2 separate regions of the Homo sapiens genome follow, and region 1 is linked to region 2. A link means that fine-mapping ties the variant in region 2 to the expression of a gene that starts in the linked region. Tissue or cell type: whole blood. Region 2 holds a variant in brackets; the other region holds the start of a gene. All regions are shown on one strand. Distances are from middle to middle.

Evidence for each region. PIP is the estimated chance that this variant, and not a neighbour inherited with it, causes the effect.
Region 1: it holds the start of ZFP36L1, and the variant in region 2 is fine-mapped to the expression of ZFP36L1 in whole blood (TOPMed, PIP above 0.99).

What each region holds. Positions count from the first base shown.
Region 1 is chr14:68,788,490-68,796,586 of GRCh38, reverse strand. ZFP36L1 (ZFP36 ring finger protein like 1) reads left to right here and starts at 3,520. Exons shown (of 2, transcript NM_004926.4): 1 at 3,520-3,705; 2 at 6,095-8,097. The coding sequence starts at 3,649. The coding sequence ends at 7,054. RefSeq lists enhancers at 293-352, 1,533-1,692, 1,355-1,899, 5,987-6,602, 6,710-6,789 and 1 more and silencers at 473-792, 3,073-3,272, 3,293-3,362.
Region 2 is chr14:68,574,711-68,582,810 of GRCh38, reverse strand. It overlaps a transcript of RAD51B not described here. Among named protein-coding and RNA genes, the nearest start is that of RAD51B-AS1, 110 kb to the left of the region's middle. RefSeq lists an enhancer at 6,238-6,407. The variant C/T (reference allele first, on the strand shown) is at 4,766.

The sequences.
Region 1 (8,097 bases), 210 kb before region 2:
CGTGAGATGGAAATTTACCAAAAATGCAGATTCCCCGGCCCCATCTGGGCCAGGGAATCAGCATTCCAAACTTTAAACAAGGGGACTCCAGGTGTCTCTCTCTCTTTCAACCTGAAGAATTTGGGGGATTTTGCAAATGACCTGAAGCCTGAGAGGAAGTGCAACACTGCAGGGCTCTCAGGAGGGGGTACCCTGCTGACGCCTGTGACTAGGCCTAACCTTCTGGGGTCCTGCGGCCCAGTGCTGCACACTGTCATCTGCCTTGAGGTGCGCCTGGGGTCCAGATTGGCCGATGAATACGTACACCCGCAGCGCCTCCTTCACTCCGAAGACTTTCACTTTCCCCCTTGCACAAAACCGAACATCCCACCCCACCACCACCTCCAAGCTAAAATACCTGGGCCGCCCCTCCCCACGAAGGGACGCGCTCCAGGCGAATGGGGAGGGCCCGGAAGTCGGGCCTGGGACAGAGGAGCCGGCCCACCGCCTCCCGGTCGGAAGCGGCAGTGCAGGTGAGGCGGCGGCCAGCCTGGGGACTGCGCGGGTAAGGAGCGGGAGGGCGGAATGCACCGCGAAGTTGGCGGGGGACGGCCACGCACGCCTCGCCTCGGCCTTCCTGCACCGTAGGGCCGCCCTCCCGCCACCCCTGGGCACCTGTCGACCACGTCTGGGCGAGGGCGGGTCGGCTCCCGCCCTCGGGCCCTCACCGCGGCGGGGACGCCGGGTCAGCGAAGGGTTAAGGGACTCGCTCCCTCCTCTCGGCTCCCTCACCCTTGGAAAGTCCCCGAAATGACGTTTCAACCCGACAATTTAAAAAAGAGTTTAATTATAGAGACAGGCTCTGGGAGCTGGAACAAACCCTTGGTCGGCGGGGCCGGTAAACAACTCGGGAGCGAGCGGGCTAGGCCAGTCGCAGCCTTGCGGAGCCCGCGCCCCCGGGGAGAGGGGGAGGGGAGGGCCTCCGGGAGTTGGAAAAGCCGAGGAAATTCGAGGAATCAGCTTTCTTTGGAAAAATCCACTTTGTAGCCATTCTGGGGCGCCTGATGGTGCTCCTGGCCGGTCCCGCAGCCTTGGAGGGAAAGCGGCGCCGCCCGAAGCAGGGGCATAGCCGGTGCCCCGCGGGGACAGGCCCTGGGCCGGGAAGGGGGCCCCGCCCGCTCCCAGTCCCCTTCCCCTTTGCTTTTTTCCAGCCCCTCCTCCGGTCCCCCCAGCTGAGCTTCGCGAACCCTCGGGAGTTAAAGACCAGCCGGCCTCTTTTTTGGGGGGGGTGGGGGGTGGGGGAGCGGGAATGGGTGGAGGCCGGGGGAATAAAAAACCGAAATAGCTTCACATCAGAACTCAGACTAACCTTGTGGTTTCAACGCGCACTCTGCTCTGTCCTGAAATCTGGAACTCATTACCTCATCACCAAGAAACTGCACGAAATCTCTCCCCCACCGCCCCAACACCCACTTGGGAAAGGAACGAGCAAACATCCCTCTAAGAAAGAAACCTACACTTGAATGATTTAAATTAAGGTGGATGGAAGTTATTTCCCTTTCTGGCGCTTGCCAGATTTCAAGAAAAGCTGAAAAATGGGAGCGGGGGAGGGAAGCAACAGACGGCTGGAGGGCAGCAGCAGAACAAGCGAGGGGCAGCAGCCGAGTTAAAGTGGGGGCCATCCATTTCGGGCAGAGGAGACAAATGAAAGCCGACCCCGCTGGGATCACGTAGGTTCGTGGCTGCAGCAAAAGTTGGGTTTCACAAAGTTGAAAAACAGCCGGTTTCTCAAACAATTGTGATTTGGAAGGTTTCGCTGGGTTTGCCCAGATGTTTACGAATAAATAAGAAATGCAGTTTTAAAAAAAAGTGTGTGTTGGGGGTGGTGAGAATGCGCTCTCTTCGGCCCGCCCCGTCCTTTCCAAAGAAACGTGCTCATAATGGGGTGACCTAATTACATCGCAATGGAACTCAATCTTAGCCACTCCGCAGCACCGGGTTTCATAACAGACTCGGCGGCCTCGAGTGCTGGGAAGAAACGTGCGAGGGCCGAGGGGGGCGGCGGAGCCCGCGTGGAAATCGGAAAGAAGCGCAGCCCTGCGACTTCCGCCTGGGTCATCACGCCAGCAGTCGGGCCAAGGCGCAGGGGGCGGGTGGGGGACTCGTTAACTTTTTATTTGGGTGGGCGGCATCCAAACCTAACAGTATATATTTTATCATTTTCAAGGGAGTCATGCTCCATTGCGGGCCCTTCGGTTTCGTGGCTCCCATGTCCCCCTCTCCACCTCCCGCCAAAACGGCGCAGCGTGACAAGCCATATGTTCCACTCCGGTGGGGGCGAGAGAGAAGCAACAATAAGTTAAAAGTGCCGCCTCCCTCCACCTCTTTACCTTCATTCTTACCAAAGTAACCTTTTTTCATTGTTCTAGAGTCTTGAGGTGTGTGTGGGGAGGATGGAGGAGGAGGGAGGGTTGTGGCGCCGCCCAGAATTCGGAGCGCGCGTGGAAAGTAGTGAGTTGCTCGGTGGGCTTTTTCTGGGAGGAAGGGGCATTCAGGAAGGATTAGGGTTTTCTTGACTAAAAAGTTTAAAGATTGGATGCGTGAAAAGAAACGGCACGCCTAGGCCTGGTAAAACAAACAATCGTCCCGGGTTGTGGTCTTTTTTTGCGGCGCCCCCCACCCGCCCACACCCGGAGAGCGCCGGCTGCAAAGCGAGCGCGAGTGTCGACGCGTGCGGCGCACTAAATTGTGCCGCGCTCGCCCCCGCCAGACCATGTCCTCCTGGGGAAAAAGTTTCCCTAGTCCCCCCAGCAGCGCGCCCCACCCTACGCCCCGCTGGAAAAAAAACAGCAACATAAAATCCTAGGCTTGAACATTCTGTGCGTCCCAAATTTCTAATGTCCTCGGCCTGCCCGGTTTGCCGAAGGGAGCCGAGTGTCGAAGAGAAGTCGGGAAAAGGTAAGTTGTGCAGACACTTGGGGAAGTTTCAAGGAGACCGCCAGCTCAAGATGGAAACCGCGGCCCGGGCGCTAAGGACGGGCTTCAGCTCCCGCTGGCAAAAAGAGAAAGTCGAGCCCGCCTTCCTGCCCAACAAAAAACAACAACATGACAACAAGAACCCCGGAGGGAGTGGAATGAGTGACGTCACAGCCGCGCTCTGAGGCTGACAAAGGAGGGGGCGCGCCCCTCCCGCTCTGCGCCCGCGCGGCCCCGGAGAGGGGGCGCCTGAAGCGCCGGGTAGGGAAGTCAGCCGACTTGAAACTTTTCCTCTTAAAGAAAAAAAAAAAAAAGTTGTGCGCGGCTCACAGTGGGGTTTTTTTTTTCCGCCTTCTTTTCTCGTCTCCCCTCCCCCTTCTTCCTTTTGAAAGTTTCTTCTCCTCCCCCTGCCCCCCCTCCCCGCCTGACCGCATGGCTGATTCAACTCCAGTGTCAATCAACTTCTTTTTCCTCCTCTTCCTCATTTAAATAAGTTTAAAGCTCCTCCTCCCCCCGGCCCACCAAATCTGAACTTTATAAATTGGGCTTTGCGCGCCCCAGCCCGGAGTCAGAAAGGCGAGGGGCGCCGGGAACTGGCGTGTGGGACTCCAGACAGGAGAGGCTGCGCCTTCCCCGCACCGGGACCTTCGCGACACACCAGATCCTCGCCCCTGGCTCGCGCGAACGCACAGGATGACCACCACCCTCGTGTCTGCCACCATCTTCGACTTGAGCGAAGTTTTATGCAAGGTAAAGGGGGGCGGAGCATTTGCTTTTCAAAAAGTCTTTTTCTTTTGCCTTAAGAAAGAACCCCCAAAAGTTTGGGTCTTGGAAGGCAATGGGGAAAGTGGTGCAGCGAGATGATTCTTTTCTCCTCCGGCATTTCTCCCAAGTTTGAAGGAATTTGGCCCCGTCCTTCCCACCCTTTGAGTTTCAACAGTTGCTGGCGGGGATTACATGTGAATCTGGAGGCCAGGGTTTTGAGGGGCGAAGTTTGCCTGGCAGGGCAGCCCGGGGGCTTCGGGGGGAGGGCTGGGATTGGGACAAGTTTTGGGCGATCCTGTTTTACGTAACGTGCTGCTGGATCCCAGGTTTGCTGGTCTGATCGGGTTCCCAGTCTGCGCCCTAGGTCTGTCCAGCGGCATTACCCACCCGTGGGGTTGGGAGTGGGAGGTCCCTCGGGGAAGTGAGTCTCGGGACAATGTTTTCCTCCACTCTTTGGGGGGAGCTGGGGATATGCGAGGAAGAAAGGCCAAGTTGTGATTCAAAAAGATGTTGCAGAACAAGTTTGCAGTGGGGCTTGAGTCCGCCCTAGCTCCGTTGGGCTTCTTCCCGCGATAGCCGATCGTGCAGCAAACTTTGGGGTGAAAGAGGCATTCAGGTTGACCCGCTTACCTGTGTTGCCGAGGCATTGCGGCTCATCGATTGCGGGCGGGGTTGGGGGGGGAGGTGGCGACAAAATGCTGGCTTGAACTCGAGAGTCCCGCGAGTAAGGATTTAATGGGGGGCTCCTTAAAACATGTTGCTTGTCAGCCAGTGTTGAAAAAGCAAGTTTTAAACTCGGAATGTTCCAGGACTGCGGTTTAAATGTACATAGCAAAAGTCTATGGATGTTGTTAAATTTCTTTCCAACCTCCCCCTCCCAATTTGAAAGGGTGAAGCTGCTGGGCTACTTTTTAATTGCTGAAGTGTTTTGCCTTCTCTTAACACGTCGGGTCATGTTGCTCTGTTTTCCCAGCTTGCTGCTCCTGTTGGTGCAGCTGCCAACGCCCCAGGGCTGCAGGGTTGGGGTGCAGGGACGCCGAGGAGCTGAAGAGTAGCATTTAAAAAGTTTGAATTTTTCAGCTTCCTTCCCTCCCTGCACATTCCCAAACTCCACTTGCCAGCCCGGCTGCCAGCGCTCCCCAACATTTCTTCCTTCTTTTCTCGACTCTCCCGCTCTTTGATCTATTTCTTTCTTTGGCCCCCCTCCCCCCTCACGACTTTTTAAATGAACCTCATTGTTGGGAACCAGCTCTCGACTGGGTTCCTGTAATCCTCTCGGTGGGGTGGTTGCAGTTACAGATTCCCGGTCCCCCCCTGCTGATCCTAAGGGACCAACATTAGAATTTGCACAATGACACCCACATGGGCTGGGAACTAACTCCTAGGTCCCTGACCTGCACCATTTCCAAATCTTGGGTACAATTTGGGCAGGTGACCAGGGTCCTATTGGAACAGAAACCTGCCATTGGTGGCTCTGCCCCCATCCCCACCACCCCCAATCCGCTATTGACTAGGAGGTGGGTAGGGGGGTTGGTGCTTTCCTTTTCCTTTCCATCTGCAGCTTTGCGTTAAAGATTAAACACTGGAGCTCTTATCCAAGCTTGCTCTTGCAGCCAAAAGACTAATTGCAAAGGCATCTTCTCAGTGAAGGGGGCGGGGTGGGCTAGGGCTGAGTGGAAATGGTGAGAGAGATTATTGTAGAAAATATCTCTTCCGGGAACTTAGGGCAAAGAGTTTTATTTTCAGGAATCACATCCCTGTCTCCCCCAACCTCAGACCAGGCCCCCAATCTCCTCCCCACAAGAAAAAGCAAAGGCAGTCTGAAAACCTGTTGCCAAAGGAAGGGAACACTTCTGAAGGAGGAAGTTGAGAGTCTTAGGCCAGGTCTTGAAGGAGGGGGTATCAATTAAGCAGAGACTGATTGGAAGGGGACCTAACGTAGCCTATGATAGACTCCTTTCTGAGGTTTACCTGTTTTTGTCGCGGGCGGTGGCGGGGGCGGGGTGCGGTAATCTAGAGAGGTCTGGGTTGTGTGAGATATTTTGAGTTGAAGAATCTATTTGACTAGTAAAAAAGTTGAACTTTAAAGTGGTAGCTTTGGGGACAGAGGACATGGGGGTTGCATTGCAGGAGTCAGCATGGAGCAGGGTGCTTGTCACACAGTTTGGATCTTGTGGTTTCTTACGCATGGGGCCAAAATAAACCCAGGTGAATGGCCTATGGGAGGGAGAGAGGGAAGGGAGCTTGCTAGAGCCGAGGTAGAGATGAGTTCTTTGAGAAAGAGCGGGCGTTTGTGATTGTGTAGGGGGCTGCCCATAGTGGACATCCTGGTGGATGTCCTCTGTCCTTACCATCCTTTCTCTTCTCTCTCCAGGGTAACAAGATGCTCAACTATAGTGCTCCCAGTGCAGGGGGTTGCCTGCTGGACAGAAAGGCAGTGGGCACCCCTGCTGGTGGGGGCTTCCCTCGGAGGCACTCAGTCACCCTGCCCAGCTCCAAGTTCCACCAGAACCAGCTCCTCAGCAGCCTCAAGGGTGAGCCAGCCCCCGCTCTGAGCTCGCGAGACAGCCGCTTCCGAGACCGCTCCTTCTCGGAAGGGGGCGAGCGGCTGCTGCCCACCCAGAAGCAGCCCGGGGGCGGCCAGGTCAACTCCAGCCGCTACAAGACGGAGCTGTGCCGCCCCTTTGAGGAAAACGGTGCCTGTAAGTACGGGGACAAGTGCCAGTTCGCACACGGCATCCACGAGCTCCGCAGCCTGACCCGCCACCCCAAGTACAAGACGGAGCTGTGCCGCACCTTCCACACCATCGGCTTTTGCCCCTACGGGCCCCGCTGCCACTTCATCCACAACGCTGAAGAGCGCCGTGCCCTGGCCGGGGCCCGGGACCTCTCCGCTGACCGTCCCCGCCTCCAGCATAGCTTTAGCTTTGCTGGGTTTCCCAGTGCCGCTGCCACCGCCGCTGCCACCGGGCTGCTGGACAGCCCCACGTCCATCACCCCACCCCCTATTCTGAGCGCCGATGACCTCCTGGGCTCACCTACCCTGCCCGATGGCACCAATAACCCTTTTGCCTTCTCCAGCCAGGAGCTGGCAAGCCTCTTTGCCCCTAGCATGGGGCTGCCCGGGGGTGGCTCCCCGACCACCTTCCTCTTCCGGCCCATGTCCGAGTCCCCTCACATGTTTGACTCTCCCCCCAGCCCTCAGGATTCTCTCTCGGACCAGGAGGGCTACCTGAGCAGCTCCAGCAGCAGCCACAGTGGCTCAGACTCCCCGACCTTGGACAACTCAAGACGCCTGCCCATCTTCAGCAGACTTTCCATCTCAGATGACTAAGCCAGGGTAGGGAGGGACCTCCTGCCTACTCCAGCCCCTACCCTGCACCCACATCCCATACCCTCTTCTCCCTACCCATCCCATTCCCCACAGGCCCTACATTAACAAGGTTAAGCTCAACCCCTTTCCCCCAGCACCTCAGAATGTGCCCTCCCTCTCCCCCTCATAACCCCACCTAACATAAGGACAAGTCAATTTGTCAGTAGCTTCTTCTGGCTTGAAACCCCCTCCCTGGATTTTATAGCCCACTTACCATGCATAACAGACAAGTCCCATATTTTGTCAGTAGATGCCTTTTTTTTTCCGGCTTAAGCCTTAAGTGCCAAATCACAAGAGAAAAAGCAGTAACAGTTTACAGAAGCAACTTAGTGCCTTGTAATCTAACTTTGTCACTGTGACTACATTACCTCTTCAGCGCCAGAGGGCACCCGTGGGCCTCCCGGAGCCTCTGCCCATGGCGGGGTGGAGACCCGGAACCAGCAGCCCCCTCCACTGGCGACACAACTGCACCTTCCCTCATTTCAGTCTCCCGCACACTTATTCCTCCTCCCCTCTTCCCGGTGGCACCTCTCCACCTGTACCCGCCCCCCCACCCCCCCCACCCCTGCCCCTTGGAAGAGTTGTTGCCAGACCAGGGTTTTGGGGGAAACCTGTCTTGACATTCAAAACCTTTTTCTTCCCGATCTGAACCCCTGTTGACTAATCTTGCCTGGGTTTGTGTAGGTCTGCAGGAAGGAAGGCTGAAAAAGCGGACGAAGATTTTGACTTAAGTGGGACTTTGTGATTTAATTTTTTCTTTTTTTTAAGTGGGGAGGAAGGGGAAGCTAGATGGACTAGGAGAGACTTGATTTTGGTGCTAAAGTTCCCCAGTTCATATGTGACATCTTTTTAAAAAAAATAACAACAAAAAAAAAATGAGAGAAAAGCTAAAAAAAAAAAAGTAAGGGGTGAGCAGTTAATGGTATTCATTCCACATACAATATCTGTGTAAAACGATTTCCTGTAGAAGTAGCTTTAATGGTTTTTGCTCTAGAATACCGTAG
Region 2 (8,100 bases):
TTCCATGGTGTATATGTGCTACATTTTCTTTATCCAGTCTATCATTGATGGGCGTTTGGGTTGATTCCAAGTCTTTGCTATTGTGAACAGTGCCACAATAAACATACGTGTGCATGTGTCTTTATAGCAGAATGATTTATAATCCTTTGGGTATATACCCAGTAATGGGATTGCTGGGTCAAATGGTATTTCTGGTTCTAGATCCTTGAGGAATTGCCACACTGTCTTCCACAATGGTTGGACGAATTATACTCCCATCAACAGTGTAAAAGCATTCCTATTTCTCCCGTCCTCTACAGCATCTGTTGTTTCCTGACTTTTTAATGATCGCCATTCTTACTGGCATGAGATGGTATCTCATTGTGGTTTTGATTTGCATTTCTCTAGTGATCAGTGATGATGAGCTTTTTTCCATATGTTTGTTGACCGCATAAATGTCTTCTTTTGAGAAGTGTCTGTTCATATCCTTTGACCACTTTTTGATGGGGTTGTTTTTTTCTTGTAAATTAGTTTAAGTTTTTTGTAGATTCTGGATATTAGCCCTTTGTCAGATGGATAGATTGTAAAAATGTTCTCCCATTCTGTAGGTTGCCTGTTCACTCTTATGATAGTTTCTTTTGCTGTGCAGAAGCTCTTTAGCTTAATTAGATCCCATTTGTCAATTTTGACTTTTGTTGCCATTGCTTTTGGTGTTTTAGTCATGAAGTCTTTGCCCATGCTTATGTCCTGAATGGTATTGCCTAGGTTTTCTTCTAGGGTTTTTATGGTTTTAGATGTTACATTTAAGTCTTTAATCCATCTTGAGTTAATTTTTGTATAAGGTGTAAGGAAGGGGTCCAATTTCAGTTTTCTGCATATGGCTAGCCAGTTTTCCCAACACCATTTATTAAATAGGGAATCCTTTCCCCATTGCCTGCTTTTGTCAGGTTTGTCAAAGATCAGATGGTTGTAGATGCGTAGTGTTATTTCTGAGGCCTCTGTTCTGTTCCATTTGTCTATGTATCTGTTTTGGTACTAGTACCATGCTGTTTTGGTTACCGTAAGCTTGTAGTATAGTTTGAAGTCAGGTAGCGTGATGCCTCCAGGTTTGTTCTTTTTGCTTAGGATTGTCTTGGCTGCACGGGCTCTTTTTTGGTTCCATATGAAATTTAAAGTAGTTTTTTTCTAATTTTGTGAAGAAAGTCAATGGTAGCTGGATGGGGATAGCATTGAATCTACAAATTACTATGGGCAGTATGAGGCCCGACATTTCTTTCCAGGTGCCAAAGCCTCTCCTCTGTGCCTTCCCTCAGACTGCTTGTTGTACAGATGCTCCTTGACTTATGATGAGATTACATCCAGATAAATGCAGGGTGAGCTGGAAATACCAGTGAAAATGCACTGGATCCACCTAACCTCCTGAGCATCACAGCTGAGCCTAGCCCACCTTCAGTGTACTCAGAACGCTTCCACAGCCCAGAGCTGGGCAACATCACCTAGCAGCACAGCACACTGTACGGCATTGGCCCTTTACCCTCCCAACCAGCTGGCTGACCGGGAGACATGGCTCACACCACCACCCAGCATCATGGGAGAATGTGGTGCCACTTTCTACTGACCGCCTATCACTTTTGCACCATCATAAAGTCGAAAAATCACAACTAGGGGACCATCTTTACTTTGAATGCCCTCCCCCTATCCCATCTTAAAGGCAGATTACTTAATAAAGAAACCCTGAGAGCCTGGTCAAAGGTAATCTATCCCTTCTCCTAAAAAAAAATCCTACATTACAGTTGCAATTCTACTATATTAATAAAAGTAATTAATGCTTATGAAAAAAACTGAATCTCACAGGAGGGAAGAAAGTGAAAAGCAGGAGCTCCCTCAGCCTCCTGAGCCCCAGCCGCCCTTCTCCAGAGATGACCGCCAAAGCACAGCTGCCACGTCCCCGCCCCGTGTGGAAATGGCCTGTGCACATACAAGGCTATACTGTGCTGAGGCTCCCATCTGTTCCTTGAGATCTCCAAGGGAAAAAGGATTAAAGAGAGGTTAGAACAGAACCTTGGGGAAATGGGGCTGGTTGGATGGGTCTGAGAGAGGAAAATAACTGAAAGGGAAGAAGAGAGTCATGGGCACCCAGGGAGGGGACAGTGGGAGGTGTGGGGCAGGCGTGTGCACCTAGGACGGCAGGGGTTCAAGAAGGGCTACAGCTAAGAACAAAATCAGTGGAGGTGACTGAGGAACAGCTGAGTGGAGCAGCAGGGGTGGAATAAAGCCCACGTGTATAACAATGTCTCTTCCACGCGGGTCACTGTCCCAAACACTTCCCACTCAGTGACTCACTTCATCTTGCCCAGAGTGCCCATTTGCAGATGAGGAAGCAGAGGTGCCGAGCACTAAGTAGTCCAAGGTCACACAGCTACTCAAAGGTAGGACAGGCCTCCTCCAAGGTCACACAGCTACTCAAAGGTAGGATGGACCTCCAACCCTGGGAGACCTGCTGTGTGCTAAGCTCTGAGATCAGGCCAAACCACAGCTGGCCGCAGGGCAAGCAGGAGGCGAAGAGGTGGGGCAGAGTGGCAGGCCTCCCTGACAAGGCTTACACTGAGAGAAACTTCCAGAACATGGAGGAGAGAAAATACACTGAAAGAGGAAATGAGGGGGAACCGGGAGCCCGGGCCCTGTTTTGTCCTGGGATAATGGTAGCCAGCGGGGGTCTCAGGGCAGGCAGGTAGGATGGCTGCTCTGGAGGAAAGCAGTGCTTCATAGGCAGCACCTTTCAAAGTCCCCTTCGAAGCTCCATGCTGGCATTGCGGGCCCTTCCCTTTCCTGTCCCCCACCTCCACTTGCGGGCACCGCCCCCTCCCACACCTTCTCCTTCTGGGCAGATCTTAGGGCCCTTGCTTGACTGGGCCTGGGCTGGAGACGTGGAGGCATCTGCCACACTGAGTCTCTGCTGCAGCCGACGGTGGGGGCACAATGCCCGTGAACCCCATGACCATTTTCTCTCTTCTATTTTCTTTCCTGGACACTCTGACAGTGGGGCAGCCAGCCTCCTTGGAAAGAACATGGGTGGGGAACAGAAACTGGGGTTGTAAGGTATGCCCCACGCACCAGGCTCAGCTCTCTCCAGGCTGATTTGGGAGCTGCCGGTGTGTTTAGGAAACATGCAAATGGGCTGCCAGGTAAAATATAGACCACCCAACACAATCTGGATTTCAGACAAGCAAGGAATCATTTTTCGGTATACATATGGCTCAAATATTTTATAAAACACACTTATACTAAAAAAAGTATTCATTGTTCATCTTAAATTTAAATTTAAATGAGTGTTTTCTATGTTTATTTGCAACATCTGGCACTCTATCCTCAAACACAAACACCCAGCCTGCCTCCCAGGACTTGGTCAAAGAGAAGCTCAGGCTGCTGCTATGCCTTTGATCTGGTGCACCTACGTTACATTCTGTGCTCCAGGAATAAAAGAAATCTCTGAGCTCCCTCAATTCACTGTCTGAGAAGTTAAGAAGTCCCTCCTCTGGATCTCCATGGGTAGTAATGGAGGGGAGGGAGAGAGGAGTTTGGTGATTTGAAAGCAGCTGGACAAAGGACTTGAAACAGAATACTAGGTGCTTCTGGGAGGCCCCTAGAAGCAGAAGTGACTTGACTGTAGACTCTTGAATTTTCAAGGTGAGGCCATGTGTGCAAAGGAAAATTGGTGGTGTCGTCACCAACATGGAGAGTCAAGAGAGCTGAATCTGGCATCAGTGACTGCCAGGAGACCCTTCTGGGCCCTACTGTGTGTCCTACCTCTTTACTCTGCACAGAACCATGGAAGGGGCCAGAGAAGAGGCTACTAAGGGTGGATGGGTAAGGCCAAGCAACTTATCCAGGTCCACACAGTGAGCTAGAAGGAAAGCAAGCCTATGACCCAGCCCCCTGAACCCTTGATATTTCCAGAGAGCTAGGTCTTGGGAAGGTCGAATGACACACCCATTAGCTATCCCTTGAGCATGCTTTCCTCCTTTGTCTTGTCACCTCTCTGTCTGCCACGTGTTGGAAGGCACATGGATCTGGGCAGGGTACCTGAGTCCAGACCACTTTCCCTGAAATTCCCTTCTGGATTTTGGGCTTCACCTTCCTGTGATCTATTCCTTCCAACTTGGTCTCCTTTATATCATTATAAGGGCCCTTTGCCTGTGAGTCAATATATCCTTCAAGGAGAGAGGCTATCCAAAGACATTCAGGACCTGGGGCTCAGGTGTGAAGTGTTGTCTGTTGTCTCTTTGCTTTATACTAATTGCATAGGAAGTCATGTGTGAGGTGGGCCGGCAGATTCTGAAACCTCCATGAAAGCTGCCATGTCATATCATCCATGGCGGGGAAATTACTTTCTTTCTCCTTTTTTTGTTTTTGTTTTTTTGAGATGGAGTTTCCCTCTTGTTGCCCAAGCTGGAGTGCAATGGTGCAATCTCCGTTCACTACAACCTCCACCTCCCGGGTTCAAGCGATTCTCTTGCCTCAGCCTCCCGAGTAGCTGGGATTACAGGTGCATGCCACCACGCCCAGCCAATAGAAAAGGGGTTTCACCATGTTAGCCAGGTTGGTCTCGAACTCCTGACCTCAAGTGATCTGCCCACCTCAGCCTCCCAAAGTGCTGATATTACAGGCATGAGCCACCGCGCCCAGCCATTACGTTCTTTATCTTTGCTTTTCTTTGCTTTCACTTCTGTTAGCAACGAGTTTCAACAGCCATTGCCACATAGTGTTGCATAGGCAGCAACGTGTT[C/T]GACAATGTGCTGTTGACAAGCACATACCACAGAATCAGGAAGACCAGTAAGTATTTCAGGAATTTGCCTGATGGAAATGACTCAAGTCTGGGGCCAGCATGAAATCCTATAAAGCAGTAAGGACACCCACCATTCTCCCTGATTTGAACCTACCCTTGAGGACATGTCTGACTCCATTCATTCACTTAATAAGTACTTATTGAGCATGTACACCACGGCAGGTAGGATTCTAAGTGCCGGGGACACAACTTTGAGAAAATAGACCAAGTCCCTGCCTTTAACTGTGTGTGTGTGTGTGTGTGATGAGAGAGGTGATAAACACAAATGTATCTGGTAACAATAAGTGCTATATAGAAAAATAAAGCAGGGGCTGGGCGCGCTGGGAGGCCGTGGTAGGCGGATCATGAGGTCCAGAGTGGGATCCAGGCTCAGTTGTGAGGAAGGTCTGAAGTGAAGGGAGCATGTTGAACCCTGGCTCATGGCTTGTGATTGAGAACACCATGCAGTGACCAGCCTAGGATTCCATTTTTTTTTTTTTTACATAAAATCAGATGAATAATGAGTAAAAGCACATGAATAATTTTACATTTGACTGTGGAAGCATCTAAACTAAAGGAGGGAGAGAGGGTTGTTCTTGGTTATTCCTTTTTGAGGCTGGGCCTTCATCTTCAAAACCTTCATCTTCAAAATGATTAAAATTGTAGACAAGGCCACAGGATGAGAAGGGTCCAGTGGCTTGGCTCTAGTTATCCTAGGGAGGGGCAGTTCCTTGGGTGTCCATGAACTCAGAACGTGCAAACCTAGTATTGCCTCCCAACTCTCTCCCGGACCCATGTGTCTCCTTTTGAGTTACAGTAATAATGGAGAACAACTGGGCCCTCTGTTTTTAGGCTAAAGGTCAAGACCAGAAAAGACTTGGAACCAAACTGGAAATTCTGCTTCCTTCCCCATAACTCCCTGTCAGCTTGTAAGCACCTTCTGTTCATCCAAGTTTTGGAGAAGACATTGGTCTTGTGTTCTGACAGACCCTGGCCTCCCAAGCTTGCTTTCCAGGGAATCTCAGCAAACCACAAACGGAATGCCCCTGTTGGTTCCGCTTTCATCTACCATTTTTTTCCTAAATAAAACACAATGAAATATTTTATCTTGATCTTGAAATACTTGCACACCAGGACCTGCTGTAGAAGATCCCAAGGTAACAGAAAGTTCATCAAAGAGCACAGACTCTGAGTCAAGAGGTGGAGCACCCAAGCTAGGTTCACCTCTGACCCCTTCCTTACTAACATCATGCCCCTGCGTGAGTCCAAACCATTTCTTGCCTCCAGTGCAGCCAAATGACAGAGGTCAGAAGGGTACCACTGATCTGATTGTTAAGAGGCAAAGATGACTCATACCCTAGAAGCTCTAAAGTACCAAGGCCTGGGTCCATCCCTAAGACTGTTTCCCTGCATTCCCCAGGGCTGGCATGCCTGGATGCTTTAGCATCTCCATCTGGAAACAAGACTCATTCCTCACTAAGTGCCATGGAAAGGCTGCAAAGACACTTTCCCTAGAACAAGGGTTTTAAGCTTTATGCATCCTCAACCTTCTAGTGGGGGCTTTACTTCTCATTCCCCAAAGCCTCAAGGTCCTCTGGGTTGGGGGTGGCAGGCAGGTCTGCAATGGTAACAATCCTAATCACGAAAAGGAGGAAGGTGTCCCCTGTGCTTATTTTTCTCCATTTGCCTTCTCCCTTCATGTTCATTCTCTTCCCTTTGGTGCCCTGCTCTGTGACCCCTGGGGCTGAGTGCTAGGAGCTGAATCACCAGCTTCCTTTGCCTCTAGCTTCCTTTTGTGTCCGGCAAATGTGAGGTACAGGCAGGAGGCTGGAGGTCAGGAGGGTGTCTCTTCCCCTGCTCCCTCTTTGCTCTGGTGCTTGGCTATGGCAGGGACTGTGGCCCTTGGGACCACTGCTCTCACCAGGTGGCCACCTCTATGCTGCCAAGACTCACCAGGCCCCAGTCACACTATTTCCTTTCTTTGCTCCTTTGGCTGAGGGCTGGTATCATCTTCCCACTATTGCTAGTTCCTGGGTGCCTCAACATTCCTGTTGCTGCCCTGAACCCTGCCCGTCCATCTATAAGTTGTGCCTTCACTACATTCTTCTTAGTCAAATCCTTTTGAAAAGAACTCTGTTTCTTGCTGGGACCCTGATTAATATATCTTTCTATATGTATTTCAAAATAAAAACTACCCTAAACGGTAAGGTAAGTATGAGGCTTTCTGACACTGACTCTTTTGAAGCTATGTTGGTGTCCAGAGGATGAACTTGGCTGCCAACTGGGGCATGAGCCTGGGTGCAGGGACTGCTGCTCCTGAAGCTTCTAGAATGAACAGGTCAGGGGCCCTGGGAGTTGCTGAGCCTTCCTCATTGGGAGAATCCCCATTCACCATGGGTGTGTGGCGTTGGGGAGGGAGAGGGGAGGAGATGGAATTATTTCACAATCTACCATGCCGCAAGGCTCTGGGATTCAACGGTCCATTTCAATTTTTCAAATGGGGCCTAAGACCCAGGGAAGAGGCCACAGAGCCCATTTCAGTCCAAATCAGCCAGACCCCAAACCTTTACAGATTCTCATCCTGGGGAAAATAAAATCTGGTGACTGCCAGAGAAATGAGGGGCAGGGGGAGCAGGGAGCAGGGAGGGAGCTTGTCATGTAAGCCTTGGCATCAGACAGCATTTGATTTCTGGCCCTACCATTTAGAAGCTATGAGAACTTGGGAAAGTCACCTAACCCCTCAGAGACTCGAGTCCCTCACTTTCCAGTTGGGAATAAATAAACTCCATATCCTCTAGGATTGTCGAGTCAGTATCTTTGACAGAAAACCCTGGCTGAGAAGCTCCCACTGAGGAGCACCATCTGAAGGGCTTGGCACAATGCCTGGCCTGCAAAAGGCATGCAGGAAATGGTACTTGGTATTATCTAAGTCCATCTCCATGGCTTCCCACTAGAGAAAAAGTCATTGTGGAGAACATACTTGGATGTATGAAGGCAATCAGAAAACCAGTCAATGGCGTGCTTTCCTCTTCTCTAACCTCAGAGTGGATTTGGATGAGAAGACTGCTCATCCCCAACCTCTCTTGCTCCTGGGCTTATTTCCCCAATCCCCCCCACACTTCATAGCTACTGGAGACCAAAAATCCTTGCTAAATTGGCAGGCTTTCCCCCTTCTCTGAGGAGCTCTTGGAATTGACTAACGAGGTTACCACAGGTGCTGCCTTGCTGCCAGCCATGAAAAAATAAAAATAAACTATTTTCTGTTGGAGAAGGGTGATGGGGACACATGCCCAGAA